Homo sapiens: one gene and its partners. The protein of the gene in region 2 interacts with the protein of the main gene of each other region in a pairwise test. Each region holds a gene or a part of one and is shown on either strand. Other genes may lie near its edges.

Region 1 (7,026 bases), on a different chromosome or scaffold from region 2:
TGGGAATGAGTCCCTGTGTGTGCAACATCTCAGCATGCAACTGTACATCTGACAGTGTCTATGTTTTTGTGACCCTGCATATGATACTGTGTCTGTGGGAGGGTCTGTGTGTGTGTGTGGGGGGGGGGGCATCTTGGTGTGTGAATGGGTGTCAACTAGTGTGTGTCTATATGTGCAGGAGAGATAGTGTGCATGTGAGAGTGTCTGTGTGTTCCTCTGTGTGTGTGTGTTGGGGACAGTGTCTCAGCATGCGACTGTGTACCTGGCAGTCTGTGAGTGATTGTGTGTGGTGGGAGAGAGTCTGTGTCAGTGTCTCAGTATTGGGAATGTGCTTGGGGGCGTGTGTGATGATGCGTGTGACCGTGTGTCCACGTGGGGGTTTTTGTGACTGTAAGAACATGTGTGTAGTATTCCTTTTCCTGTCCTTTCGTTCAGATATCTAAAGCCCTTAGGGAAAAAAAATGGATTGTAAGCTCTGAGCTTTTGAAAAAAAAGAAAGAAAGAAAGAAAAACAAGGGGCGGTCAAAGAGACAGGGGTCTGTTGATGGAAGGGGTGATTTGACTTCTGGGAGGTGACACAGAGGAAGGAGGTTGGGGTCCTGGGAGGAGATGCCAGGGAACCTGAAGGGCTGGACTTAGTTGGGGGACTCCAGAAATTTGAGTTGGAATCCCTCCTTCCTCCTTCTGAGAGGCCTTCCTGCATGTCTCCCACCTCTGTGCCACCTCCTTCCCGTCACCAAAATGGTCCCCAGAGAAAGAAAGAATCTGATACACTTATTCGCACTGAGAAATAGGAGTGCCTTTCAGATTGGCAGCCAGTGTTTGGAGAGGGAGCCCCTTCCTGGGGTGTTGGAAAGCCCACCACCCCGGGGGCTTCCACTCCACCTGCTTCCTTCTCTGCTGTCCTTCCTTCCAACGCTGCCTGCTTGTACAGGGCTTGAGAAGTCACAAAGATTTTCACCTGCTTTATCTTGTTGGATCTGTGCAGTTTGAGAAGAATGATATGCCCATTTTATGGACGGCAGAACTGGCAACTGATGAGGAAACTGAGGTCCTAAAAGATAAATCGTGTCCCACAGTCCTGCATTAACAGAGCTGGGATTTAGACCAAGAACTTATAAATCGCTGTCCAGTGCTCCTTCCTGTAGACCACACCACTCCCTCCTGGTGTCCTCTTTCCTGTCTCCTGCTTCCTCCAAAAACTCCTGAATCTGAGGGATGCCCCTTCCTTCTTGTAACCTCCAACCCAGGTGTCGTCTCCACGTGCCTTCATCCACCTCAGAGAGATCCCATGAAGCCTGTCAAGTCTTGATTCTAGAAACTGCCATCCTGCCCTTCCCATGGCCCTTTAGACCCCCTCTGACCGCTGCTTTGCTCTCCTGGTCAGCTCTGCTGCCTTGTGAGGGACAGGGACATCTGGATTGCATCCTTCCCGCTACCCAGAACCCACAGCCCCACCTTGTCAGGCTTGCAGCAGGGACTTATGTTGTGGGAGGATGAAATGGAGGAGTGGGGGACACTGGTGGGCAGGGCCTTGCCCCTCCTCACAGGGCATGGGGTCCAAAGCTTCCTCCCTGCTTCACTTTGCCATTGGCTGTGGTTACTGCTGGAAGATCTCACAAATTAAGCAGAATGATTGGTCATTGGACATGAACATATATTCATTTCCTCTTTCTGGGAATATGTTGATCCTAGAAGTGAGGAAGGGGTGGGGCCCCAGTCCCCAGGAAGCCTGGTCACTCCCTCCCACTCTGCCCTTTCCACTAAACAGTAGAAATCATGGGGATTGCTGCCATTGACTGAGCCTTCTCCATGTGCCCACCATCCTAAGCATTAACTCAGTCCCCACAGCCATCCCATGGGGGAGGGGCTGCTGTTCCCTTTTGCACAAGTGTAAGCTGAGCCTAAAACATACAACTCTTGCACTCGGTTGCAAACCTAATATCTGGGTGACCCAGGTCCAGGCCCAGATCTGAGCCCAAGGCCAGGGTTGTTCAGCCTCCACTATGTTACCTGGGCACCCAGGCCCTATGGCACTGGGTGGCCCTAGCCTCATTTACTCAGTCTTTCCCCAGACCAGAACCTCCCATCTGTCCCAGGGCCCACCACCACTCTCTCCCTGCCCCAAAAAATCCTCCTGATAACAGTCCACAGCTCTCCTCTGCTCTCCGGAGCACTGATGTCCCCACCTTTGTACCTTTTCCCTGCTGTGCCCTCCTGCTGAAGTGCCCGCCCTCCTCCTTGCTAGCCCAGTCTGCCTCCAACCCCCTTCACCCCAGCCCCACCTCACAGTCCCCAATCCCTCAGGCCTCTTGAGTCTGCACTGAACCCTGCCCCAACCACTCCCTGAACACTTTCACCCACTGCCTTCCCTGTTATGTCACTTGTCCTGTAAAGCATTGACCCCCGAGTAGCCTGAAGACTCTCTCAGGCAGGGCTCCTGCAGTCACCTTTATACTCCCTGCATTCCCCTCCACCCACGACCACCCAGAACCTGGCACAGTTATGGTTTCTGTAAATACGAGGCGTGGGAGAGGCCAGAAGTCTGGGTAGTTTGCACTGTGTGTGCCTGCAGGGGTGGGATGAAGGCTCGAAGGTATTTAGAAGCCCTGATCTGGTGTAGGGAGGGGACAAGATACTCTTACTGTCAGGAATCCCTCACCTAAGGGGGAGCCACAGCCCCATCCTCAGGAAGCTCCAGTCTGAGGGGAGACACAGCCCCGTCCTCAGGGAGCCCCAGTCTGAATATAGTTTTATGTCCACAGCTCTGCTCAGAGTAGGTGACAGCGCTGCCCTGGGGTGCAGGAGGCCAGATTGGCCTTCATGGCGCTGTCGTTAACCCCTCCCCCCGCCTCTGGGAAGAACTGGCTTCCATACCTCTCTGCCTGCCCCAGACACACCTTCTGCCCCAGTTCCCAGCAGTGACCTTGTGTGTGGTCTGCTTTCATTCTAGAAACAGAAACCAAGGGGGATTTCTCCGTCTCTCTGCCCTCCACCCCCAGCAGCTGCTGCATTTAGGGGCAGCATGGAAGAGCCCTTTACCCGGAGAAGAGGGAAGAAGTGAGAAGGGAAACGGGGCGGTGGGGGTTGATCCACCAGGACTTGCTCTGATGAAAACTGTGCCACCTCCTCAGCTGTGGCTAATATCATGGACAACACCTTTGCAGCTGTTATGTTTGATTTCTTGTTCTTTTTTTCCCCAAGCAAATACAGTTGACCTTTGCCCTCAGAAGAGCTCTGTCCTTCAGGGTAGCCCCTGCCGCCTTGGCACACTTATGCCAAGGATGCTGCTGGGGCTTAAAGTGAGCTGGGCCCTTCCATGGGGCCTCCGAGGCAGCAAGGGGTGAGCAAGGCAACCCAAGTCTCTCAGGGAGGTGTGTGATAAGCCAGCTAGAACCCGAGACTGGATCCAGCATGTGCCCAGCACGCTACAAGGCAAGGGGGCAAGCTTCTAAAAAGAAGCTATTTTAATTTCAGCACACGTGGACATTTTTGTGATTTCAAAAAGCAAAATGTTGTTTTAAATTATGTATGGGTCCTACATTTTATACATGGGGCTCTTGGGTCATTTCAGCATCTGCAGCCTCTGAAGGACGAATATTTATAATTTTTAAGGCTGTTCAGGAAAAAACTAAAAAGAACGACAACCCCAAGACATAGCTGAAGGAAGTGCACAAAAACACTCAGAAGGAATGGTGGATTCTCAGTGGGATGGGTCTGTTTGGGTCTGTGTGCTGAAAAGCCATTTCGGTGACCTCACTGGAAGTGGAGGCTCAGCTCTCCCTACTCACAGGTGAGAGGGATCCCTCCCATTGCACGTGTGACTTCAGTGTTCTGGAACCTCCCTGACCCCTTCACCTCATGTCCTCAGGACTCTTCCTTTGGGTGGATAGAAGCTGGGTTGAATATTAGATTTGGTTGCTGTGTCAGAGGGGAGCACGGGGAGGGGGTGGGGGGTGCTGTGTTGAGTGCATCTGTAAGTGAGTGCGTTTTGGAGGAGGAATGCTAATGGCAGACATCCCAGCTCTTTGTAGCCCTGAACGCCACTACTCTCCCCGGCCCCCGCACACCTTGCGATATTCTACCATGGTCACTGATCTGAAGGACTCCAGATTCTAGCCTTAACTCTGCTTCCTGGGGGGGCTGTGCACCCTTGATTCAGTTCCTCTCCCACTCTGGCCTGTGTGTCTTCTTCTAGAATGGTTGAAAGTGCAAGAAGCCCTCAGGCAGGCTGACTAGGCGCCAGAAGGAGCTTAGAGTCCTGGGCCCTCAGAAAGTCTCTCTCCTAAGTGAGATCAGAGATCACAAATGAGACACACACGCTCCTTTCCTCCTTCACCCACCCACCTCCCCAAAAGCATCAATTTAGCAGACATTTGCTGGGTGCTCGTGACACATCAAGCTATGCACCCTGGGAGGAATGAAGATGTCAAACCATCCACCTGGGGCCCCTGGGTGGCAGTGACTTATTCTCACTCTCTTTCAGAGGTGGCTGATGCCTGGCAGAATTTGGGGCTTTGAGGTTTCATGGAGATTGAGAAACCAAGTGTGTTAGGGGGTGAGGGGGCAGGAGAGGGGCTGGCTGAACCCACAGGCCTCCCATATATGCCCTCCCCCCAGGGTGCCACTGTGTCCCTCTGGGAGACGGTGCAGAAATGGCGAGAATACCGACGCCAGTGCCAGCGCTCCCTGACTGAGGATCCACCTCCTGCCACAGGTGAGTCCATGTAGGCTCCCCACCTTTAGTGCTCCCCACCCAACCAACTTCTGGAGGACTTTGATGAACTCAATGTCCATGGCTGGGAGCCATTTGCCTCTATAGGATGCCACCCCTGCCCTCTGCCTTCATCTCATTGTCCAAGCTACTCCTTCACCTGGATACCTTCCTTTCTGCCGACCAAAATCTTCCTTTTCTTCAAAGTCCGCGGAAGCACTGCCTCCTCCAGAAAATCTTCCCCAGGACTTCTGCCATCATTTGGCCCTTACTCGTTTGCTGTAGTCTGCTTTGGGGTTGCTGTCTTATTTCTGTCTTAGCTGTCTTATCTGTGTGTCCTTCCCTGCACCGCCGGCCAGCCCCCCAGCTAGAGCCTCTCAGAGCAGGCACCCGGCCTTTCCATTTTTGTCCTCAGCACCTCCCAGCCTGTGCATGGACTGAGGGCTCCACAAACATATTTATAGGAATAAATGTTTCAGGGAGTTCACAAGGTGGTTTAAAGAGCACGGGATTGGAGCCCGCTGGGCCTAGGTTGAAATCCTGACTGTAATTATAACACGTGACCTAAAGAAGGTTATCTTAAGTGAGATCAGAAGGAAGGTAAGCTAACATTTCCCTCTAATCTGTGAAGTGCAATTTAAGAATAGGCCCATAGGGATTTTTCATTGAGCACGTACTATGTTCCATTATCTATGTAGCATATAGTCTTGATCCCACAAAACCCTATGGGGCTGGAAATACTCCTGTTTTACAGATCAGGAAACAGACATTAAGTTACTTGCTCAAGGTCCTGCCACTGATAAGTGGCAAGTGCCCCTGCTTGGCTCTTGCTGGGTGGGGAAAGTGCTTGGCATACAGTAAGCATTCAGCAGAGGTTAGTGGCATGCAGCCTCCGAGGAGGGGAGGGGTCTTGGGGAAGGGAGGGAAAGGGCCATGGCCAGTCACAAGCAGGGACTCAGAGACTGTTCTTTCTGCTCCCAGACTTGTTCTGCAACCGGACCTTCGATGAATACGCCTGCTGGCCAGATGGGGAGCCAGGCTCGTTCGTGAATGTCAGCTGCCCCTGGTACCTGCCCTGGGCCAGCAGTGGTGAGCCCCCTCCCCGACCTGGTACCTGCCCTGGGCCAGCAGTGGTGAACCCCCTCCCCGACCTGGTATCTGCCCTGGGCCAGCAGTGGTGAGCCCCCTCCCCGACCTGATACCTGCCCTGGGCCAGCAGTGGTGAGCCCCCTCCCTGACCTGGTACCTGCCCTGGGCCAGCAGTGGTGAGCCCCCTCCCTAACCTGGTACCTGCCGTGGGTCAGCAGTGGTGAGCCCCCTCCCTAACCTGGTACCTGCCGTGGGTCAGCAGTGGTGAGCCCCCTCCCTGACCTGGTACCTGCCCTGGGTCAGCAGTGGTGAGCTCCCTCCCCCACCGTCCCCTGTATCGAGGAGGCTGAGGTCAAGGCGCTGCTTCCTTTCCTCTGAGACACAGCCCTCCCCACCCAGAATGTCTTTAGGCCTCCTAGTGAGTGGTCCGCCTGCCTTTCCTGGGGTGAGGGGAGCAGTCAGTAGTGATAAGTTTCATGATGGCCTGAGGTACCACCTGGGTCTGGGCGTGAGGCCAGTGCTGGCCAGTGTGTGGGGAAGGGAAAGTAAGTGTCTGAAGAGAAATGCGACCCCTTCCAATTCAGTAGTCAGGAAAAGAGCTGGGTGGGGACAGACTCTTGCGGGGAGGGAAGCTACCCAGGGTGTCTGCTGTGTGTATACATGTATGTATGATATGTGTATGCAGGTGGCCCATACCTGGCAGTGACATTTAGCTACTTCCTCACTCTTTAGAGGTTCACTGGGAGAAGTGATCAGGGCATTGGTGGGGTGACGAACCCCACCAGACTCAGCCCTCCTCAGCTCACTCCTGCCTGCAAGGGGGACCTTGTACTGGGGAAGATGTGACTGGGTAGGTGGGAAGGTCATTTCATTGGGGGTACAGAGATTTGCAGAGGCTGCAAGAGGATCCCTGACTGGAGGGTTAGTTAATGTGCCCCGCTATCTATCCCAGCCTCCCTTGCTGAGCCCAGTTTCACCCAGGCACCGTGGAGGATAACAGGAGACAAGCACCCTCATGGCAAGGAGCTCCCAGTCTCCATAAGGGGAGAAAAGATATTTCCCTATCATCATCATCATCATCATCATCATCACCATCACCATCATCATCGTCATCATAGCCAGCATTTATTGAGTACCTACTGTGTGCCAAGTCCTGCCCTAAAAGCAGGGCTTTATAACTACCCTGTGGTTATACCTGCTGTACAGATGAGGAAACTGAAGCA
Region 2 (7,390 bases):
CTATGCTGTCCAATACGGTAGCCACTAGCCACAAACCACTTGCAATATGGCTAGTGTAACTGAGGAACAGAATTTTTCATTTTATTTAATTTTAACTAGTTTCAATAGCCACACATAGCTAGTGGCTCCTGCGCTGGACTATGCAGATATGGAGAATTTTCTCTATGATAACAAAAATAAGACAATAGTGAGTGGGGAGGGTTTAGGAAAGCTAGAAAGTGTCTGCCATCTAAAGACAGTGGCTGCTGCTGAGTGTCAGCAGATTGTGGCTACAGGGGGAAGCAAATGTGTTTCCATTACCTGTTGCTACATAATAAACTGCCCCAGAATTTAGTGGCTTAAAAGAACAACCATGTTATTTGTTTACAATTCTGCTATCTGGGTTGAGGCTCAGCTGTGTGGTTCTTCTGCTGGTCTTCACATGGCTGCATTCAGTAGGCAGGTCATCTGGAATGCTGAGAATCCCCTCTCCACATAGTTGCAGACTCCTCCTCAACATATGATGGAAGGCAGGTGGACGTCTAATATGATGGCTCCGGACACCCCAGTCATGAAAGTGGAAGGTGTCAGACTTTAAGCCTGTGCCCAGACCAGGCCCAGAGACACTTTTGATGTATTCTCTTGGTCAAAACAGGTCACAGGACAGGCCCTGTGGTGTGATCTCTGAGGAATACATAAAGGCTTGAATACTATGGGGCATGGTTCAAAGTGATGGGATCATACTAATGTAACAGGTAATCACAAGTCCAGCATTGCCAGAGCTCACATTTATTTTCCCCAAATAGCAAGGCATCCAAATTTATATGTGAAACCTTTCAAACTGTAACTATTAGTTCACTTTCTTTTGGTACCAGCTTTATGGAGACATATTCGCATACCATATAATTCACTTATATAAACTGTAGAATTCAGTGGTTTTTTAGTACATTCACAGAGATGTGCACCAATCTTCCCCTCCCCTCCCCCAGTATCAGGAAACTGTACTAATCTGCATTGTCTGTATGGATTTGCCTATTGCCTATTCTGGCCATTGCATATAAATGTGATCTTGCCAGATGTGGTCTTGGCTCACTTTTTTGTTTTTTTAAACTTAGCTTTAGTTTTCTCAAATGAGGCAATGCAATCGGATTAGTTTACTATCATTCAAAAATGGCAGAGTGTATTGAGCACTGTTTGGACACTGGGTTATCACATGATTCAAATCATTTGCTTTGCTTTCATTCCATGTTTAATGTTAATTTTACTCTAGACTTTGCCTGAGCGTCAAACCTATCAGTCTTAGAAAAAATACTCAAAGATTCTGTCTCCTCTACCAACTGCAAAGTGGAAGCAGCACTGGACTCATAATTAGATATAAGCCTTTCATTGAAGTCTGAGTTCTATTGCTTTCTTTTTTATTTTTTATTTTGAGACAGTTTCGCTCTATCACCCAGGCTGGAGTGCAGTGGCGTGATCTCGGCTCACTGCAACTCCACCTCCCAGGCTCAAGCGATTCTCCTGCCTGAGCCTCTTGAGTAGCTGGGATTACAGGTGCGCAACACTACCGCCTGGCTAATTTTTGTAATTTTAGTAGAGATGGGGTTTCACCATGTTGGCCCGGCTGGTCTTTAACTCCTGACTTCAAGTGATCTGCCTGCCTTGGCCTCCCAAAGTGCTGAGATTACAGGCATGAGCCACTGTGCCACTGCACTCCAGCCTGGGTTACAAGAGCGAAACTCCATCTCAAAAAGAAAAAAAAAAAATGGCACATATGTGTGTGTGTGTGTCTATATGTACATGTTCAAGGACATATATTAGTATCCAATAATAAGTTAAAATACTAATATATGCCCTTGAACATGTATAGACACATATATATACACATGTATACATGCACACATATACACACACTTATATACACACATATATACATATATACACACAGATATACATATGTGTATACACACACATATATGAGAACATAAGGTGACTTGCATCATTTACATTCAACAAATGGTCAGTCATTCACTCATCCAGTTCAATCTAATACCTATTTATCATTGGCAAGTGCTGTGCCAGCCTCTAGAACTACAATCGTGGTTAAAACAAAGATCCCGGCCATCCCAGCTTTGAAGACAGGCATTCAATAGTTGCACAAAATAAGTATAAATTATAACCGGTGCTGTGGGAAAAAAGTATAGGGAGTTCCAAGGCCATAAAAACGGGGAGCTAACCTAGTGTGGCAGGGTTAGGAAAGTGATATTTGAGCTGACAGCTGGAAATGACAAGCATCAACAGACAGGTGGCAAAGGTCCAATTCGGGCATTCAATTATTCTCTCCTTAGACATTGATTAAATATATATTGCCTGCTGTGTGGCAGCACTGTGCTGACCATCAGTCTATCTGTCGGACATTTAAAAAAGTTTTTTAAAAAGAGAATGCATGCAACTTCAAGACTTACTGGCAGGATTACTTCTCCAGATGACCTACTGGCAAGCCAACTTCCCAGCTACTGGCTCCACCCTCATCTTAGCTGGAGGGAATGATGAAGGAAGAGGAGGTGGTCTTACACTAATTGAATCATTGCAGCAGCTGTGGATCACGATTCCTTTCTTTCTTGCCTTTTTTTTTTTTTTTTTTTGAGACAGGGTCTCACTATGTCACCCAGGCTGGAGTGCAGTGATGCCCTCACTGCTGAATGCAGCCTCTACCTCCCGGGCTCAAGCAATCCTCTTGCCTCAGCCTCCCAAAGTGCTGAGATTATAGGCGTGAGCCATCATCCCAGGCCGGGGTCTCAATTTCTTTTTTTTTTGTCTTTTTTTTTTTTTTTGAGACGAAGTCTCACTCTGTCACCAGGCCGGAATGCAGTGGCACAATCTCGGCTCACTGCAACCTCTGCCTCCCTGGTTCAAGCGATTCTCCTGCCTCAGCCTCCTGAGTAGCTGGGACTACAGGCGCCTGCCACCACGCCCAGCTAATTTTTGTATTTTTAGTAGAGACGGGGTTTCACCATGTTGGCCAGGATGGTATCGATCTCTTGACCTCGTGATCCGTCCGCCTCGGCCTCCCAAAGTGCTGGGATTGTAGACGTGAGCCACCATCCCAGGCCGGGGTCTCAATTTCTGAAGCCATGCTGAGGGCCATTTTTGGGCGGCACTCTTTCACTCCACTATGTGCCAGGCGCTGTCCCAGAGGCAGGGGGCACAGTGAGGAACAAAACACAAGAGAATCCTGCCATCAGGAAGCTTACACCTGTTAACACATGCAGGTTGGGGAGATAAACGAATAAATTAAAAAATGTAACAGGTAATAAGGAGAAAAGAGTAACATGATGGAATGGGATACTCGGGCCTTGGACAGGCTAGTGAAAAAAATGTTTCTCTGAAGTCAACACTTCGGTGGAAGGTTGAAGGATGAGAAGCCAGCCATGCAACCATAGATGGTGTAGGGGCAGTCTCTGGGAAAGCCTGAAACAGGCTGGAGCTTGCCTTGTTCTAAGCCAGTGAGTCTCAATGGGGGCGTATTTGCCCCCAGGAGTCCTTCGGCAAAGTCTAGAAGACATTTTCGGTTGTTAACCTGAGGTGCTAGGGGGTGGAACTGGCCCCTAGTGGATAGCAGAGGCCAAAGCTGCTGCTGAACATCGTGCAACGCACAGGACAGTCCCGTCGCTCAAAGTGCCAACGATGCACGGGTTGAGAAACCGGGTCCTCTCCAGGACTGAAGCCCAGGGCAGGGAGCACGGGGGCAGCCTGAGCAAACCCGCCTGGAGAGCAGCCGCCGTCTCAGTGTGAGTTTTGGCTGCCTACTGGGCCCCACCGAAGCCCGAAGAGGGCCAGGCTCCGGCTTCTTTGTTTAAACTCCCTTAGTCCGACTGCCTGCAGTGGCTCATGCACGTAATTCCAACACTATGGGAGGCTGAGACGTGAGGAACGCTTGATGCCAGGAGTTCGAGACCAACCTGAGCAACAAAGCGAGACCCCATTTCAAAAAACTGTTTAAAAATTAGCCACAGGCAGCGGCGAGCGCCTGCGGTCCCAGCTACCCGGGAGGCTGAGGTGGGAGGGCCGCTTGATCCTGGGAAGCTGAGGCTGCAGTGAGGCGTAACCGCATGACTGCGCTCCAGCCTGGGCGAGAGAGGGAAACCCTGTCTCAAAAAGGCAAACAAAGGCTCTCGGCCGCCAAGCTGCGGAATCCCAAGCTCCCCAAGACACGCAGTGATCCAGAATACCGGCCACCTCCTCGCCTAGTGCCCGGGGCGGGGCCGGAAGTTCCGGCGAGTGGGGCGTTGAGCAGCGGCGAGCCCGCCCAATAGGGACATCTCAGGCCCGGCAGTCTCGCGAGAAGGGCGGCGGCCCTGGGTTCTGGGACAGGTGACCCGGCGGCGGGGCGAGGCAGCTGGCGGCGTCGCATGGAGGGCTCTGGGGGCGGTGCGGGCGAGCGGGCGCCGCTGCTGGGCGCGCGGCGGGCGGCGGCGGCCGCGGCGGCGGCTGGGGCGTTCGCGGGCCGGCGCGCGGCGTGCGGGGCCGTGCTGCTGACGGAGCTGCTGGAGCGCGCCGCTTTCTACGGCATCACGTCCAACCTGGTGCTATTCCTGAACGGGGCGCCGTTCTGCTGGGAGGGCGCGCAGGCCAGCGAGGCGCTGCTGCTCTTCATGGGCCTCACCTACCTGGGCTCGCCGTTCGGAGGCTGGCTGGCCGACGCGCGGCTGGGCCGGGCGCGCGCCATCCTGCTGAGCCTGGCGCTCTACCTGCTGGGCATGCTGGCCTTCCCGCTGCTGGCCGCGCCCGCCACGCGAGCCGCGCTCTGCGGTTCCGCGCGCCTGCTCAACTGCACGGCGCCTGGTCCCGACGCCGCCGCCCGCTGCTGCTCACCGGCCACCTTCGCGGGGCTGGTGCTGGTGGGCCTGGGCGTGGCCACCGTCAAGGCCAACATCACGCCCTTCGGCGCCGACCAGGTGAGCCGCGCCCCCGCGCGCTGTCCCTGTCCCTGTCCAGCCCCTGCCCAGCCCCAGCCTCTTCCCCTGCCCCAGTCCCTGCCTCTGACCGCGGAGGGAGCCCCTTGCCCCGGGGGGCTTCTGTCTAGTGCCGAGGAATCCCGCCAGCAGGTGGGCCAAGACTGGAGGTACCGGTGTGATGGGTGCTGGAAGGGGTTTGCCTGGGGCGGGGTGAGGTCTACACACACAGTGATGGCCACAGTGGCTTTAAAGAAAAGAGAGGCCGGGCGCGGTGGCTCACGCCTGTAATTCCAGCACTTTGGGAGGCCGAGGCGGGAGGATCTCTTGAGCCCAGGACTTTGAGACCAGGTTGGGCAACACAGTGAGACCTCATCTCTACCAAAATTTAAAAATTTGCCCTCCGTGGAGGCGCACACCTGTAGTCCTAGCAGAGAAAGGAGGATTCCTTGAGCCTACGAGTTTCGGAGGCTGCAGTGAGCTAGGGTCACACCAGTGCACTCTAGCTTGGGTAACAGAGTGAGACCCCACCTCAAAAAAATAAATAAATAAAATTTAAAAAATACGCTGAGCGCAGTGGCTCACGCCTGTAATCCCAACACTTTGGGAGGCCGAGGTGGGTGGATCACCTAAGGTCAGGAGTTCGAGACCAGCCTGACCAGCCTGGCTAAAAATACAAAAATTAGCCGAGCGTGGTGGCGGGCACCTGTTCTCTCAGCTAGTCGGGAGGCTGAGGCAGGAGAATCGCTTGCACCCGGGAGGCAGAGGTGCGATGAGCCGAGATCGCGCCACTCCACTCCTCCAGCCTGAGCGACAGAGCGAGACTCTGTCTCCAAATAAAAATAAATAAATAAATAAAAAATAAATGAACGGGACCCTTCTATGTTCAGGCCCTGTAAGTTCAGACCAGAAGGCTAGGAAAGAGCAGTTGTTTGAGGAGCTTTCCAGACATGGGGATTCGCAGGTGCAGGGCCCTGGGCCAGGAAGCTGAGGGAAGGGGAAGCCCCCGTTGTTGCCTTAGCTTCCTTTACAAAGAAGTGGGAAAACACTCATATTGCGTCTTCGTGGCTTTAAAGGAGTTACGGGCTAGGTTGGGTCGGAAAGCTCAGATGAAAATGAGTTTGAATCAAGTTAGCATCAAGCTGCTCCCCTGCAACTGTAACTGCCAAGAAGTGAGGGAGGAACCACTGCAGCTCTTCAGGAGGGGCAAGGACGTGGCCACCAAGTATTATATGCAGAATAGGCCGCCTTTAAGAGCAATAGCAAAGTCAGATCGTTTCAGAAAATATAAAAAAAAGTGGGAAGTGAGGTGGAAGGCTGGGGCCGGATCATGTGAGGAGTGTTAAAGCGTTGGGGATACAGTCGAGAGCTTTACTGGGTTCCAGCAGGGAGTGATTTGTGCAGAGCAGGCACTACAGCTGGGGTAGCAGGTCAGGTCTGCTTCTTATTTTCTGAGGATTCACAAGCTAAGAATGGTTCTTAATATTTTCTTTCTTTCTTTTTTTTTTTTTTTTTTGAGGCGGAGTCTCGCTCTGTTGCCAGGTTGGAGTGCAGTGGCGCGATCTCAGCTCACTGCAACCTTCACCTCCTGAGTTCAAGCGATTCTCCTGCCTCGGCCTCCTGAGTAGTTGAGACTACACGTGCACGCCACTGTGCCCAGCTAACTTTTGTATTTCTAGTAGAGACGGGGTTTCACCGTGTTGGCCAGGATGGTCTTGATCTCTTGACCTTGTGATCTGCCTGCCTCGGCCTCCCAAAGTGCTGGGGTTACAGGCATGAGCCACGGCGCCCAGCTAGTTCTTACATTTTTAAGTGGTCGGAAACGGGATCATTTGTGACCAGTGAAAATTTTATGAAAATCAAATTTCAATCTCCATAAATAAAGCGTTATTGGAACATAGCCCCACCTGTTTCTGCAACACAGCCACTACACTGGGGCTGCTTTCACTAAGCAGTGGCAGAATTGAGTAACTGTGATGGAGACGAGATGTCTCATAGAACTCAAAATGTGAACTGCCTGCCCCTTCACAGAAGTGTGCGGATGCTTGTAGAGAATGGGTTGTGTAGGAAGTGGTGACATTAGGGACATGAGGTGGGAGTCTCTCCTAACTAGAGTGGAGGCAGTGGAGGTGGGTGAAGTGGATGGATGGAGTTCAGCTATGGAAGTAGAATGGGCAGGAAGTACTGGCAGGTTGTCTCCCTGTTTGTGTTCCTATGTAGGAATACCTGAGGCTCAGTCATCTATAATGGAAAGATGTTTCTTTGGTTTAGGGTTCTGCAGGCTGTACAAGAAGCAGGGCGCCAGCATCTGCACTGCTGAGGGCCTTGTGAATGGGAGCCAGCTGTGTAGAGATCACATGCACTAGAGGAAGTGAGAGAGGGGAGGGAGGTGCCAGGCTTGTAAACGACCTCTCTCATAGGAGAGTTCACTCCTGTGACAGCCCCAAGCCTTTCTTCAG
Region 3 (7,041 bases), on a different chromosome or scaffold from region 2:
TGAAATAGTACATCTAAAGACACATCTTATTTTAGTAAATCATTTCTCTTGAGGGGCACTGAGATTAGTCTTGCTTTTCCACTATGTGTAATTATTGCATATGCCTCCGTGAGTATTTCCACAGGCCAGATTTGGAGGAGCAGAATTACCAGATCAAAGCTATTGCCAAATTTCCTTTCAAGTAGCTTGGATCAATTTATTCTCTCACCAGCAATGTTTGAGATTGTTTTCATTGACATTCCTTAGCACATTATTTTTTTTTAATTTTCCAATCAAATGAGCTAATTTATGTTTGTCTCAAATTAGAGAGTCTTGTTAAAATCATATGTAGGTCATGTGTTATTTTTTAATGCCTGCAAAACTCAAAATCCTGTATTTCATCTCTTTACCTCTATATTATATTACCCTATAATATAAATTCTAAATCCCATAATTCCATTGTAAACTTTTTAAGACTTTCTTGGTGTGGGGGACTTGCAGGTAAATTGCTGAAAAGTGATCACTGAAAAACTTGAATATTGTTTTGTTCATGATTTAATTATGATAATGTAACCAAATCTGTATTACATGTTCCAGTTTTTTTTCAGTGAATGATGCTAGACCTTTACCTAAACAAAAAGCTTCTTTAGGAAGGACCTCCCTGTATAAAATAGCATCTGCAGTTTCCTTACTCTTATCTTTAAAAATACCTGTTCCTTAGAGCTGGAAATAATCACTTAATCACATACCTTAGATTATATCCCTATTATTTCAGCTTGTATTGAATTTATTGATGAATGCTCTAAAATATTGCTCATTAATATTTCAATTTCTGTTACAAATCATATAATTTGGGATTATCTATTCTTGTATCAAATATGAAGTGATTCTTAACAAATTAATTTCTGAAAGTATAACTTTATGGCTAAGATAATACAATCATAAATCAAAAGCCCTCTCTTCTTCATATTAATATTACCAAGTAAATAAATAATTTTTTGTTTGGTTCTGCTTAGATTCTTATGACCAAAGTTAATGGCTACTTCCAAGGACGATCTGATGTGTGAATTTTCTTAGTTCAGAAAATGTAAACTTTGGTGCAGAAATATTAGTAAATATATTTTATCATAGTTTGGATTTTTCTTTATACTCCTTCTTGATATAAATTGAAAAATTAAACCTTTTGGATCATTTTTTGAATCACTTTCAATGTATTTTGATGCAAAATGAGAGGACTAAAAAAATAAGAAACCTATCATAATAGTATTGTACTGATATAAATTTCTTTGGTGTTATAATTGTTAATCATTGTTAATCATGTTAATTATGCCAATTTCATTAACATTTACTTAATTGTAGGCATGTCAACTACAAATGCAATGCAAGATTCTTGATTGGATCCTGGATTTAAAACATAAAAAGATTCTAAAGGACATGTGGATAATTAGGAAAATTTGAATGTGTATCACATCTTAGATAATAGTATTGTGTTGATGTTATGTTTCCGTGGTGTTGTAATGTGTTATAGAAGACTGCCTTTATTTTTAGGAGATACATGCTCAAGAATTTAGGGGTGACATGTGTCCTAAAGTCAGCAACATACTTTCAAACCATTCAGGGAAAAAACTGTGCATATGTGCATGCGTGTGTGTGAATATATATATACACATATAGAGAGAGAGAAAAGGACAGGCAGAGACAGAGAAAGACAAAGCGAGAGAGAAAGTAAATGTGGCAAAAAGATACCACTGATTAATACACATGATGAAAATATGGGTGTTCGTTGTACTATTCTTTCAATTTTTATATAGATTTGAAACATTTCTAAATAAAAATTGGGAGGGGGAAAAAACCATATTTAGTTAATGAAGGCATATTTACATTGTATAATGTTTATTAAGAGCCTAGAGGGACAATATCTTATATATCTAAAATAATCACTACATATGAGATGAGAAATGTCTCAGTGACTTGATATAAATACTTCAAACATCATTTTGCTCTGAGATAATAGAATTAGTGTACTACCTTTGAATATCTCCAAAATTCCACTTATGATATGGATGTTTGACACAGACTTCAAATACTCTTCAATCCTCCAGAAGCTTCTCAAGCTCAGAAACAATCTTCTTCTCACACTGACCTATGCAAGAAATGTTATAAAATATCAATATAAATATTCTGTCCAAACCAGGTCTATATTTAAGCACAGATTCATATGCGCAAGACAAAGAATGTTTGAGCGAGTCTAAAGATAATTCAAACAAAACTCCACTCGTACATGCGCTATCTTTAATACCAAAAGGGAAGCTTTCCCCAAATCACCCAGATGAAAGTCGAAAAGCATCCTCACTATAGATCGCATTCATTTTGAATACATCCTGCCACACAGAAAAACACTATCACAAGCTTGCTGAACTGAATAATTGAGAGTCAAATCCAATTGGAAAGGACTGTGATTGTTTTCGTCTCTAAAACTGCATCACCGTAACTGAATTCAAGAGCTGTGTTGTCCCTGCAAAACCCTGCTTAGGTTTTTAGGCCTTCTTTTAAAAATGCAGAAGCTAAACCAGTGTGGCAATTAGTGAAAGAGGACTGCAAAAATAACACAATAAATATTTGCTCAGATCAGTCAAAAATTGTAGGTAAAAATATAAGTGTTTTAGAAATGCTTAGAATGTGGACACGAGGAGGTAAGGAAAGGAAGTATTGGGCTTAATTTCTCTTTATTTTTCAACTCCACTGAATGCTTGTTTAAACTCCCACTTGTCTCTGATATGGTAAGCTAGAAAAGCATTTTAGATGTCATAAGAATGGATCAGCGCTCTCGTGATAAAGGGCTAAGAAAGCGTGAGAAGACAGATGACAAAAAATAATAGCGGAGTTCTAGGGTCCTTTGCTTTCTTTTTCTTACCTTCACTAACCAATCTGCTCATCTGATCCGGCAGAAACACAGCAACTGACCAAACAGAGAGATGAACAAGCCAGCCAATGCTCTTTCCAGAAATTTTCACAAGCCTTTCACTGATGAGACCAGTAGACTGAGCTGCTCAGTGCAAAGCCATTCTTTTTATAATTGGTCCCATGGAAAAAGAGTTGTTTTTGTTCAAGTCCGATTTGTGCTAAAGAGGCAGTGGGAAGTCCCGGGAGGTGGGGAGGCAGTAACTGACAAAGCCACATCAAGCCACAGAATGGTGTTTCTTCCCCTTTTTCGAAAAATGAAACCTATCTACGAAACTGTCTCTTATTAAAATAGTTTATGGTTACACATTTTGTAAGAACCCTAGCAACAGAATTAAATTTCCTTTCTAGAAAAGTACATTATCTGGGATCCTTCACCCAAAAGAAAGCCAAAGTCACATATGACTTTAGGAAATTCTGTTTCGTTACTAATCTATAATTTTTAAGAAGTATTATTTCTCAATGGTACTTATAATTTTTAAAAATGTAAATGAAAAAAATTTTCTCGGCCGGGCGCAGTGGCTCACGCCTGTAATCCCAGCACTTTGGGAGGCCGAGGCAGGTGGATCAGGAGGTCAGGAAATCGAGACCATCCTGGCAAACACGGCGAAACCTCGTCTCTCCTAAAAATACAAAAAATTAGCCGGGCGCGGTGGCGGGCGCCTGTGGTCCCAGCTACTCGGGAGGCTGAGGCAGGAGAATGGCGTGAACCCGGGAAGTGGAGCTTGCAGTGAGCCGAGATCGCGCCACTGCACTCCAGCCTGGGCGACAGGGCGAGACTCCGTCTCAAAAGAAAAAAAAAAGAAAAAAGTTTTCCCTCTCCAAATACCGAAGGTCAAAACAATAATACATGGTGTGGGCAAAGTTGTGAAGAAACAAGCACTCTCAAACACTACTGATGAGATTGTAAACATATTTAGAGGGCAATTTCCCAGTATCTCTCAAATACAAATATTCATACCCTTTGACCCAACAATTGTATTTTTTATAAATTTGTCCAAGCTATATGTTTACACTTGTACACAAAGACTTATGTGAAAAGATATTTGTTGCAGCATTGCTTGAGAAAATAAATGACTAGAAAAAATTATATCCATAAATAAGATATTGGCCAAGTAAATGAGAACGTATGCATACTTAAAATCCTATGTAGGTTGTGTGCGGTGGCTCACGCCTGTAATCCTAGCACTTTGGGAGGCCGAGGCAGGTGGATCACTTGAGGTCAGAAGTTTGAGACCAGCCTGGCCAACATGGTGAAACCTTGTCTCTACTAAAAATACAAAACTTAGCCACGCGTGGTGGTGGGCACCTGTAATCCCAGCTACTCGGAGGCTGAGGCATGAGAATCCCTTGAACCCGAGAGGTGGAGGTCACAGTGAGCTGAGATTGTGCCACTGCACTCCAGCCAGGGTGACAGAGCGAGACTCCATCTCAAAAAAAAAAAAAAAGAAAAAAAAAGATCTCTAACATATATTGTTTAGCAAGAACTCATTTTCCAGTTTGTATTTTTAAGGAATATATGTATATACATGCTTATGTAATAGAATATTTCTTTTTAAAATTTTGTATTTTAATTTTTGTAGGTATACAGTAGGTGTATATATTTATGGGGTACATAAGATGTTTCGATACATGCATATGATGCATAATAATTACATCATGAAAAATGGGGTATCCATCCCCTCAAACATTTATCTTTTGTGTTACAAAAAATCTAATTATACTATTTTAGTTATACTAAAATGTAAAATTAAGTTATTATTCACTACAGTATCCCTGTTGTGCTATTAAATACTTTGTCTTATTCATTCTTTCTAACTAGTTTTTGCACCCATTAACCATCCCTACCTGCCCCACCAGCCCTCCACTACCCTTCCCAGCCTCTGGTAACCATGCTTCTACTCTCTATGTGCATGAGTTCAATTGTTTTGATTTTTAGATATCACAAATAAGTGAGAACATGTGATGTTTGACTTTCTGTTTCTGGCTTATTTCACTTAACATAATGACCTCTGGTTCCATCCATGTCGTTGCAAATGACAGGATCTTATTCTTTTTTGTGGCCGAATAGTACTCTATTGTGTATATGTATCACATTTTCTTTATCCATTTATCTGTTGATGGACACTGAAGTTGCTTCCAAATCTTAGCTATGGTGAACAGTGCTGCCACAAACATAGGAGTGCAGATATCTCTTCAATGTACTGATGTCCTTTCTTTTGGGTAGATACCCAGCAGTCCGATTGCTGGATCTTATGGTGGCTCAATTTTTAGTTTTTTGAGGAACCTCCAAAGTGTTCTCCATAGTGGTTGTACTAATTTACATTCCCACCAACAGTGTATGAGAGTTCCCTTTTCTCCCTATCCTCACCAGCATTTGTTATAGCCTTTCTAGAATATTTCTTTTTTTATGCTACACACAAGAAATCAGAAATAAGCAATTGTGTTTCAGGAACAAGACTCATTTTTCATTCTATACCCTTTTGAAATTTCTGTGTGTATGTATTACTTTTTCATTTTAAAAACTAGTATTCTTAAGTCATATTTAACTTTGATTGTACGGCCCAAATGTATTATAATCTATGTCTTTTCTGGAGGACAGACAAGTCTATCTGCAAATGGGTCAGTTCTTCTTGCCCAAAAGCAGAAAAATTAAGGGTTTCAAAATCATTTATCTGGTTTACCCTGACTGCTTCAAGTTAACCAACAAAGAATAAGCCTGCCCAAATCATAACTACTTCACTGTCTTTTTCTACCTAACTCCAATCAAAACTAAGTTCTATGGATACAAAAAACAAAACAAAACAAAACAAAGCAAAACAAAAAACAAAGCTAAGTTCCAAACTCTTAAGAGGTGAACATTTCCACTTAATGGGTTTGATTTTGTTTACTTTTGTTCAACGACTTATCTTAAAATGTCATATATTTTAAAGTATACTAGCATTTTTATTTTTGTTAGTCATGATTTTCTGCATTATTTTTTCATGAAACATTACTTAAATCCACTTTAGAAGGCATGCTCTCATGTATGAGCCATGATAAGGACAGTTTCTCAACTAGTCCTGAATCTGACTTGACCTACCATCACAGGAAACACCAGACTCATTGCCCCAGGGGCAAATTCAGTTACAGTGTAATCTTACAAAATCAGGTTCAGTGATGTCTTCAGGCATTTTTAGCTCATCAAGGATTTAGCTGTGATCAAGAGACCATAGCACCTGTAGGGCCAAACATTGATTTATTTCACTTTAGTGTTGCTTCATCCACAGTCATGAGACACCGTAGAGTAGGTCTTACCTACCTCCAGAAACACTTTATGGTGGGTTACCAAGAACTCGCCTGGAAGTACAATGAAATAACCATTGTGGGGTGATTCCATCTTCTCCACGTTGTCTTAAGTCACACTTACTGTTTTATTCAAATACAATATGCAGAATTTTGATTATGCCCACTCTTGATTTTGTCTCTAAAGTTACCCCTTTGATGGAAAAACCTCCTTTGCAGAAAAAAGATTCTGTAAGGAAAAAATGGGCACTATGCCAAGCTAACCTACTATTTCTACTATTTCTCATTTGATAAAACCTGAGCATACAAAATCAGCTTTAAACAGCTTTTTCTTTACTGGTTAAAATAAAATAGAATTATATCCCTTGTAGCTGAAATCTTATAATATGATTTTCTATTAATCTGCTGAATAGTAGGTAAAAGTTATTGCCTCGATATCTGTGCCTCTAAATGGACATTATTCCTATTATTCAATTACTTTTCCTGCTGTACAAAACACCCTCCAAGTTATTTCCATTATGATAGCATCCCTCCTAGCTCACTCTCAATCCTCACCAGGTTTCCTCCACCCTGGCTACCCTCTATTCACCTCATAGTGCTCCTAGTAGCACTCTAAATTCCACAACAATATGTCTTTCTGTCACATCCTACTTGCCAATTTCCAGTCCCATATAAAACCATTATTGCCTGGCCGGGCACGATGGCTCACACATGTAATCCCAGCACTTTGGGAGGCCAAGATGGGCTGATCACCTGAGGTCAGGAGTTCAAGACCAGCCTGGCCAACATAGTGAAACCCTGTCTCTACTAAAAATA

The links.
Region 1: the proteins of SLC15A4 (region 2) and GLP1R interact in a protein complementation assay, tested with the Homo sapiens proteins (2 studies listed by BioGRID).
Region 3: the proteins of SLC15A4 (region 2) and TASL interact in binary tests that used the Homo sapiens proteins (3 or more experiments, as listed by UniProt).

The regions. Positions count from the first base shown.
Region 1 is NC_000006.12:39,051,777-39,058,802, forward strand, and holds part of GLP1R (glucagon-like peptide 1 receptor precursor), read left to right. Parts: intron 1-4,620; coding exon 4,621-4,717; intron 4,718-5,695; coding exon 5,696-5,803; intron 5,804-7,026.
Region 2 is NC_000012.12:128,820,942-128,828,331, reverse strand, and holds the start of SLC15A4 (solute carrier family 15 member 4), read left to right. Parts: upstream 1-4,373; 5' UTR 4,374-4,388; coding exon 4,389-4,934; coding exon of another isoform or gene 4,935-5,084; intron 5,085-7,390. UniProt on the Homo sapiens protein: Proton-coupled amino-acid transporter that mediates the transmembrane transport of L-histidine and some di- and tripeptides from inside the lysosome to the cytosol, and plays a key role in innate immune response.
Region 3 is NC_000023.11:30,574,745-30,581,785, forward strand, and holds the start of TASL (TLR adapter interacting with SLC15A4 on the lysosome), read right to left. Parts: upstream 3,023-7,041; 5' UTR 2,894-3,022; intron 2,123-2,893; 5' UTR 2,008-2,122; intron 1-2,007. UniProt on the Homo sapiens protein: Innate immune adapter that mediates the recruitment and activation of IRF5 downstream of endolysosomal toll-like receptors TLR7, TLR8 and TLR9.